2 linked regions of the Homo sapiens genome follow. The protein of the gene in region 2 interacts with the protein of the main gene of each other region in a pairwise test. Each region holds a gene or a part of one and is shown on either strand. Other genes may lie near its edges. The genes, in order: SLC20A1 and RAPGEF1.

The links.
Region 1: the proteins of RAPGEF1 (region 2) and SLC20A1 interact in a two-hybrid assay, tested with the Homo sapiens proteins (one large-scale study listed by BioGRID and IntAct).

The regions. Positions count from the first base shown.
Region 1 is NC_000002.12:112,652,431-112,656,246, forward strand, and holds part of SLC20A1 (sodium-dependent phosphate transporter 1), read left to right. Parts: intron 1-271; coding exon 272-368; intron 369-3,816. UniProt on the Homo sapiens protein: Sodium-phosphate symporter which preferentially transports the monovalent form of phosphate with a stoichiometry of two sodium ions per phosphate ion. May play a role in extracellular matrix and cartilage calcification as well as in vascular calcification.
Region 2 is NC_000009.12:131,733,323-131,737,138, forward strand, and holds part of RAPGEF1 (rap guanine nucleotide exchange factor 1), read right to left. Parts: intron 1-3,816. UniProt on the Homo sapiens protein: Guanine nucleotide-releasing protein that binds to SH3 domain of CRK and GRB2/ASH. Transduces signals from CRK to activate RAS. Involved in cell branching and adhesion mediated by BCAR1-CRK-RAPGEF1 signaling and activation of RAP1.

The sequences.
Region 1 (3,816 bases), on a different chromosome or scaffold from region 2:
TATTGCAATCTTTATTCAGGATGTTATCAGTCACTGGTACAGTTAGTCTTGTTATTAAAAGAAAAAAGAAAAAAAAACAGGTAGAAGTTGGAATTAGCCTTCGTAGGAAGAATTCCAGATGCAAATGCAGGAAAAACTCTGTTGTCCTTGGAAACTACTCTGGAGAGAGTTATTGGCACTATAATTCCCAAACCTACCCTGTTAAAAGATTCTGTGGAAATGGGTTAACCTTTATACCTTTTAAGATATTGATCTTAATGATGTTTTACAGGCAGATCCAGTTCCTAATGGTTTGCGAGCTTTGCCAGTTTTCTATGCCTGCACAGTTGGAATAAACCTCTTTTCCATCATGTATACTGGAGCACCGTGTAAGTACCTATCAAAATATTTAAATGTGAATTTAAAGTTGTTTACAAAACTTGCATTAAATGCCCAATTTACCCCTTTTTGCTTTACAGGGCTGAAATCTCCTAGAAGGTGGCTGGCCTGCGCCCATTTCAGAAGGCTGCAGGCTAGTGTACGCTGAGTTAACCTAGATAGTTTTTCAACCAAAGAGACCTGCTCAGATTCTAAATCACTACAGACCTTTCCTCTTTAGTCTTCACAGGATCCACTGATAATATGATCATCTCCTTCCCTTTCTCCTGTCTATGCTAAAAATGCTGGAATTAATACTGACCTCAACTACTGAAGTCATTAGTTATATCTGATCTTCAGTAATCAGTCATTTAGGACTGGTTTGCTGGATATTCTCATTTTTCTCTCCCAAATGGAGATACTATTGTTTCTAAGTACTAAACTTCCATGAATCTGCTTGAATGAGAAGAGTTGGGATGTTTACCACCTGCTCTAAGTGCACTTGGAAGAAGAAATTCATGCAGCTAAGAGGAAAAATAATTTGTGAGAATATAAAGGTTGAAATGTTGATGACTTTCATGTTTGGGACTAAGGCAAGGCATGGATTAAATTATGGCGCTACAAGTTTAATTTAGCAACAACAAAAGATTGGTAACTTGTAACTGGCAGGACAGTACAGTTTTGGTATCTAGACTCATTTGGCCTGATGGTCTGTGACTACATAGGCAGTGACTTTTATTCTTTATACTGTGACCCACTGGATGAAATACAGGACACACATGTATGTATGTAGAGAGAAAGATAACTGGAATAGTGTCATGAAGCCACTTAATGCTTACTATGTGCTATGCACCCATATTTTCAAATTCTCTCTTTTTTTTTTTCTTAACATTTGTTGTGGCCCACTGAAATGATTTCAGTTTTGAGTAATGGGTTGTGACTTGCTCTTAAACCTCACTGAAGTAGTAAGTTGCTGACCCAAAGTAGAGTTAGCTAAATATTTTTATTATTTATTTATTTTTTTGAGACAGTTTTGCTCTTGTTGCCCAGGCTGGAGTGCAATGGCATGATCTTGGCTCACCACAACCTCTACCTCCCGGGTTCAAGCAATTCTCCTGCTTCAGCCTCCCAAGTAACTGGGATTACAGGCGTGCACCACCAAGCCCGGCTGATTTTGTATTTTTAGTAGAGACGGGGTTTCTCCATGTTGGTCAGGCTGGTCTCCAACTCCTGACCTCAGGTGGTCCGCCTGCCTCAGCCTCCCAAAGTGCTGGGATTACAGACATGATCACCGCACCTCGCCAATATTTTAATTTTTTACCTTATTTTAGATTGAGGGATTATATGTGTATTTTGTTAGATGGAGCTAAGTATTTTTAATCTTGCTAATTAATTCTTGGAATAATCAGGAACGAAACAGACAACTTTAAGAAAATATTGTTCTTACTTAGACTATACTGAACTGCTATGTGCCGGTGAAGAGAAGTTTGTATGCCAGATTTCCATTGTAAACAGTTCTTTGTGATAAACTAAAAAGTCTCCCATGATGCTCTTAACACTCATTCTTTATGTGGTAGAAGCAAAGCTCAGAGATGAGTGAAATTAGAATCATTTTAAAAACAGAAACTTAGATATTTTCGTTGTGTCCTTTATGGATCATTTGTAAGAAAAACCAGTCTCTTTCCTTTTTGACTTGGAATGTAGACCAACTTAAATTGTGATAGACAGTAATTTCATGTATATTTTAGTTTGTGTGACCACATGATCAAAATTGAAAGCAGAATTTAAAATGAAAAGATACATAGTCACCATAGAATTGTAGTTTGGGGCCGGGCGCGGTGGCTCATGCTTGTAATCCCAGCACTTTGGGAGGCCGAGGTGGGTGGATCATGAGGTCAGGAGTTCAAGACCAGCCTGGCCAAGTTGGTGAAACCTCATCTCTACTAAAAACTAGAAAAACTAACCAGGTGCAGTGGCAGGCGCCTGTAATCCCAGCTACTTCGGAGGCTGAGGCAGGAGAATCACTTGAGCCTGGTAGGCGGAGGTTGCAGTGAGCCAAGATCGTGCCACTGTACTCCAGCCTGGGCGACAGAGTGCGATGCTGTCTCAAAAAAAAAAAAAAAAAGTTCAAAAACAAAAAAAGTTTTAGTTTTGAAGGGACCTCAATTTGTTTCTAATTTTTTTTTTTTTTTTTTTTTTGAGACAGAGTCTCGCCCTGTCACTCAGGTTGGAGTGCAGTGGTGCGAACTTGGGTGACTGCAACCACTACCTCCCGGGTTTGAGCGATTCTCCTGCTTCAGCCTCCCGAGTAGCTGGGATTACACATGTGCATCACCACGCCCAGCTAATTTTTGTATTTTTAGTAGATACGTGGTTTCACCGTGTTGGTCAGTCTGGTCTTGAACTCCCAACCTCAGGTGATCCACGGACCTCAGCCTCCCAAAGTGCTGGGATTACAGGCGTGAGCTGCCGCGTCTGGCCTTGTGTCTGATTTTTAAAGATTAATCATTTTGGGGTATGATAGAATTTCCAGTTTATAAGTACAAACAGTCCCTGACTTCATGGTTCAACCTTCAGTTATTTGACTTTTTGATGGGTTTATAGGTACATAACCTCATTGTAAGTTGAGGAGCATCTGTGATTTCGTACATAACAAGCAAAATAAAGCAAAACAAGCAGAAGTAACTAAGCTATTCCTAGATATCAACTACAGATCATTATAATATCTTTTATGGGTTTTTTTTTTTTTTTTTTACCTTTTTTGTTTTTCAGGGATGGGGTCTTGCTGTGTTGCCCAGGCTGGCCTTGTATTCCTGGGCTCAGGGTGTTCTCACACTTCAGTCTCCTGAGTAGCTAGAGATCATTATAACATCTGTTAGATTTAAATAGGATTGTATAGTGCTTTACTTCTTTTCGTTTGTTTTTGTGACGGAGTTTCGCTCTTGTCACCCAGGCTGGCTGGAGTGCAGTGGCACGATCTTGGCTCACTGCAACCTCGACCTCCTGGGTTCAAGTGATTCTCCTGCCTCAGCCTCCCAAGTAGCTGGGATTATAGAAGCCCACCACCACATCCAGCTGATTTTTTTAATTTTCAGTGGAGACGGGGTTTCACCATGTTGGCCAGGCTGGTCTTGAACTCGTGACCTCAGGTGCTCCACCTGTCTCAGCCTCCCAAAGTGCTGGGATTACAGGTGTGAGCCACTGTGCCTGGCCAGTGCTTTACTTCTGTCTTTAGTACAGGCTAATGGTTTGGAGCCTACTGGCGTGCATATGACAGTCAGATAATGACTAATATTACTCATTCTTAAACCATGTGAACAGTGTTGCTAGGCAAGTCTTTTTTTAAGGTAAGACTTGTAAGTGAAATTACCACTAAACTTTGTGTGTGAGAAAGACAAAACTTTTTTTTTTTTTTTTTTTTTTTTTGAGACAAAGTCTGACTTTGTCACCCAGGCTGGA
Region 2 (3,816 bases):
ATGTATTCCAGAACTTAAAATTTAAAAAAGCCGGGGCGGGGGCGGGGGGGGGGGTGGTGCGGGGTTGGCGGGGGCAGTGGCTACAGCTTAAAAACACAAACAGAGGAGCGCTCCTTTTGAGTCCCACTCCTTCCTGGCACTGATGGGGAAAATAAGCCCCAGGAAAGGGTAAGAATCACCCAAGGACACAACTAAGATGTTCTCAAACAGATGACCAGAAACTAAGATGACTGGCCTGCTGGATGACAGATCCCTTAATAATTCACAAACGGTGGGTTTTATTTATTTACTCATAAAACAGCCTTTGGGGCAAGACGGGTGACGAGTCAGAGGAACACCTGTCCCGGCGGCGAGGCGGCCGCGGGGTGGGGCAGGCGGTGGGTTGTCAGGCCTCTCCTCTTTCCAGAGCGTGATCTTATCCTGGCCATGGGGAACACGCTCAGCTGGCCTGAGGTAAGACCCAGCCTGGCACTCAAGGCAATCTCCAATCCGGGCTACTTTGGGAGACATTTTTCTGCAAGCTCACACATGACTCATCTCTACAGACCTCCTATAAGGTCTCTTGGCTACAAGGAATCCCATTCAAACCGCCTCTGCCAACAGCTGCTCTGGAGACCAGGAAACATTTGGGGTTGCTGTGGTTGATTTTTCTAAAAACACACTTAGCTGGCATTAGTGCTATTTCTTATCTCTCTACAGCACTGTTAATGTGACTAGTATTACGAGTATCAGACGCAGTCTAAAGACTGTAGTGAGCCTCCCTTAATTTCATTGGTAGATCTTTTTTTTCAAAGATCAGAAAAGAGATTGAGAAGCCTGAAGAATTAAGATGGAAAGCTGTGTCCCCAGCAACCAGGGAGGCTCTAACCAGTGCTCTATAAAGGCAAGAAAGGGGGCCGGTTCCCCATTCCACTTCTCCAGGGCATGACCTTGGGCAAACAACCAAATTTCCCTGGGCCTTAGCTGCCCTGAGGGGCAAAAGAGGGATACTCCGCCCTGCCCTCACCCCCTGGGCTGTTGTGAGGATGAAATGAAATGAGGTAGTCTATAAATGCATTCTGAAAACCACAGGAAATTGCAGAGATGTTCAAGATCGTTCTGATTCTACCCCTGGACTGTGGCCTCCAGGGACAGGTTCCTGCTGGCTCCCTGCCACGAGGCATCACTTGGTGTTTGCCAACAAGGAGGCACTCAGTAAGTGTTAAAACGGGTGAGTGAAAGGAGGCAGAGCAGGTGCCATCAAAATGTCTCATTGCTTGACTGAGTATACTTTGACGACAAAAATTCCTAACTATGGAGGAAAAAGGAAGTACAAATTTGACGAGTTTAAAATTGATCGAAATACAATGACTGCCAATCTAAGAGGACCTCTTTCTCAGGCCACAAAAATGAGTAGCCCTACATCATAGGGCCTGTACTCTTAGTATCTGTTCTGAGAAAATATATCATGACAAAAATGTGACCATGAAATGCAGTCATTATAAATTTCTTTTCGATTTACAATAAAAGCATCTTCACACATTTGAAACCGTAGCACACTGAGCGTGAGACACCTATTTATTCCATCTTCAGGCAGCGTGCTGGGCAAGCCTGTGGCCACTTTAGCAGGCCCAGTGAACTGCTCCAAGGTGACAGGAGCTACAGCGCTGGCAGGAGGGTCTGGTAAATGATGAAACTCCCAGCCAGCCTGTGGTTCGCTGGGAGCACAGAGAGGAAGGAAAGGGACTTTAAAAACATACATACAAAACTGCTTAACTTATGGCCAGCCCAGTTAGAAGGTATGGCCCAGGAGGCCGGGATCTTTGCTGTGTCCCAAGAACAAGAACAACTCCAGGCCCTCAGGAGGTTGCTCCGTGAGGCAGGCGATGAGTGAAGCCACTGAAGGAGGGAAGAAAGGAATGAGTGACTGAAACTGACACATGCAGTCCAAGGACCTTCTTCCCTTCAGCTGAGGAGGCCTTGGTCTGCTCCCACCCCAGGAGACTGGTCCCCTACCCCACTGCCTGTGCCCAGCTAAGTGGACCCATCCTCCGCCTCTCACCTTAAGTCCCATTTTGTCACAGGAGCACAGGAGTTTCCTGACCATCCCTCCCCACTGCAAGTCTGATCTCTTGCCACCTTCCTGCTCACCCTGTGACACACAGAGGATGCCTGTATTCAGGGCAGGCAGCACGACATCTGCTGAGTTCACCACTGAGTCCCCAGAGCCTTGTACGGAGCCTGATGGAGCCGGTGCTCAATCCCTGATGAATGAGGGATGGAGTAATGAGTCAATGAAGGGATGGGGCAAAGGTTTCAAAGTCCAGACAAAAACAAACAAACATGAATCATTTCTCCGAGGAGGGGATGCAAACGCAAATGTCAAAAGTCCAAGTGGGCCGTCGGAGGTGTGGCTGGCTGTGGGAGTGGTGAGGGGCTCTGTGGGAGTGTCCGCCACCTGACTCCTGCCCATAGCTGCCTTGTAGGCAGGAACAAGCGCTCAGAGTTACCAGAGATTCTCATTTTTCAAGGAAATCAGGAACCAGGCTTTTGAGATTTTTGAGTGACTTCCTGATTTTTCAATATTGACCATCAATTCTTTTGTTTTTTTCCTCAAGAACACGTGCGGATCCAACCCAACATATCTGTGGACTGAATCCAGCCCGCAGCTGCCAGTCTGTGCTTAAGCTCCAAAAACATGACGGTATCAACTCTCCTCGCTCAATGTCTTTATTGGAAGATATATGAGCAAAAAGAACCACAGTAACTGCTTGCACAACCAGAACCATGTTCATTTGTTCTCCAAAGCAGCCTCTAAACAGCTGCATACATCTCCCATCAGTCTTCCAGAACAAATCCCTCTGAGCTCCTAGGGAAGAGCCTCTTCTCCTCTGCAGGCCTGCCCACAAGCTCACCCTGGGAGCTCCCTAATCTGTCCAGCTCTCTTCTACTCCCTACCTCCTCGTCATCTCTAGAAGCACTGTAGAGTTTAGAAAGCCTCCCCTGCATCCCAGCTTGTTCCTGGCCCTCCAAATTCAACCTTTCTCCACCAGGCCTCACTTGACAGGCCCCCACCAGCCCAGCAAGTTGTCCCTGTGCCACCCTCTGGCCCAGACTGTCTTGATTCCCCATGGCACTTGGGACCCCCAAATGTGAGGCCTATGACCTTGTGTATTCTCTGAGGATATACATAGGTATGGATGAACCCCTCAAGGCCCTGCCCCAGCCAGGCACTGCTGCATGAGAAAGAAAATGTCCCAAAGAACAGCAATGACTCAAAAGATCTCCCCCAGGGGTTAAGGAGAGTCCTGCACACCAAGGAGGTATCAGGCAATGCAAGGGGGCGGGATGAGGAACAGGCCAGAGCTGCACACTATGCGGGATGTGAAGGGGTTTCCTGTTTACCCAAAAAACCCTGGATGCCTTAAGCACTGAGAACTAAAAACGCTGGTTCTTCTACTTTCAGGGAGAGGAGATTATGAACATATTTAAGCAACGTTTCTGTTGCTTTGAGATAACAAAACAGCAAAACTCCAATCACAACAATTGTTTGCCTGGTGTCAGGCTCTGCCACCACTTCACCTAAGGGCCTCTCCTCTGAATCAAATACTCCTCTGGAGACTGAATAGTGGGAAGTCCATTAAAAAAACTCCAACAGAAATCTAACAAAATGTCGTCTAAATGCAAAGGGAAGTTCACTGAGAATAGCCAGCAGAGACCACCAGGAAAGGTCATCCTCACTCCAGGCGCGCCCCAGTCTTCCTTGGCAGTTGTAATCTTTCACTATGATTCCTATGAACTGCAGCAAAAGACCTTCTGCAAGGAGGCTGGACTTCC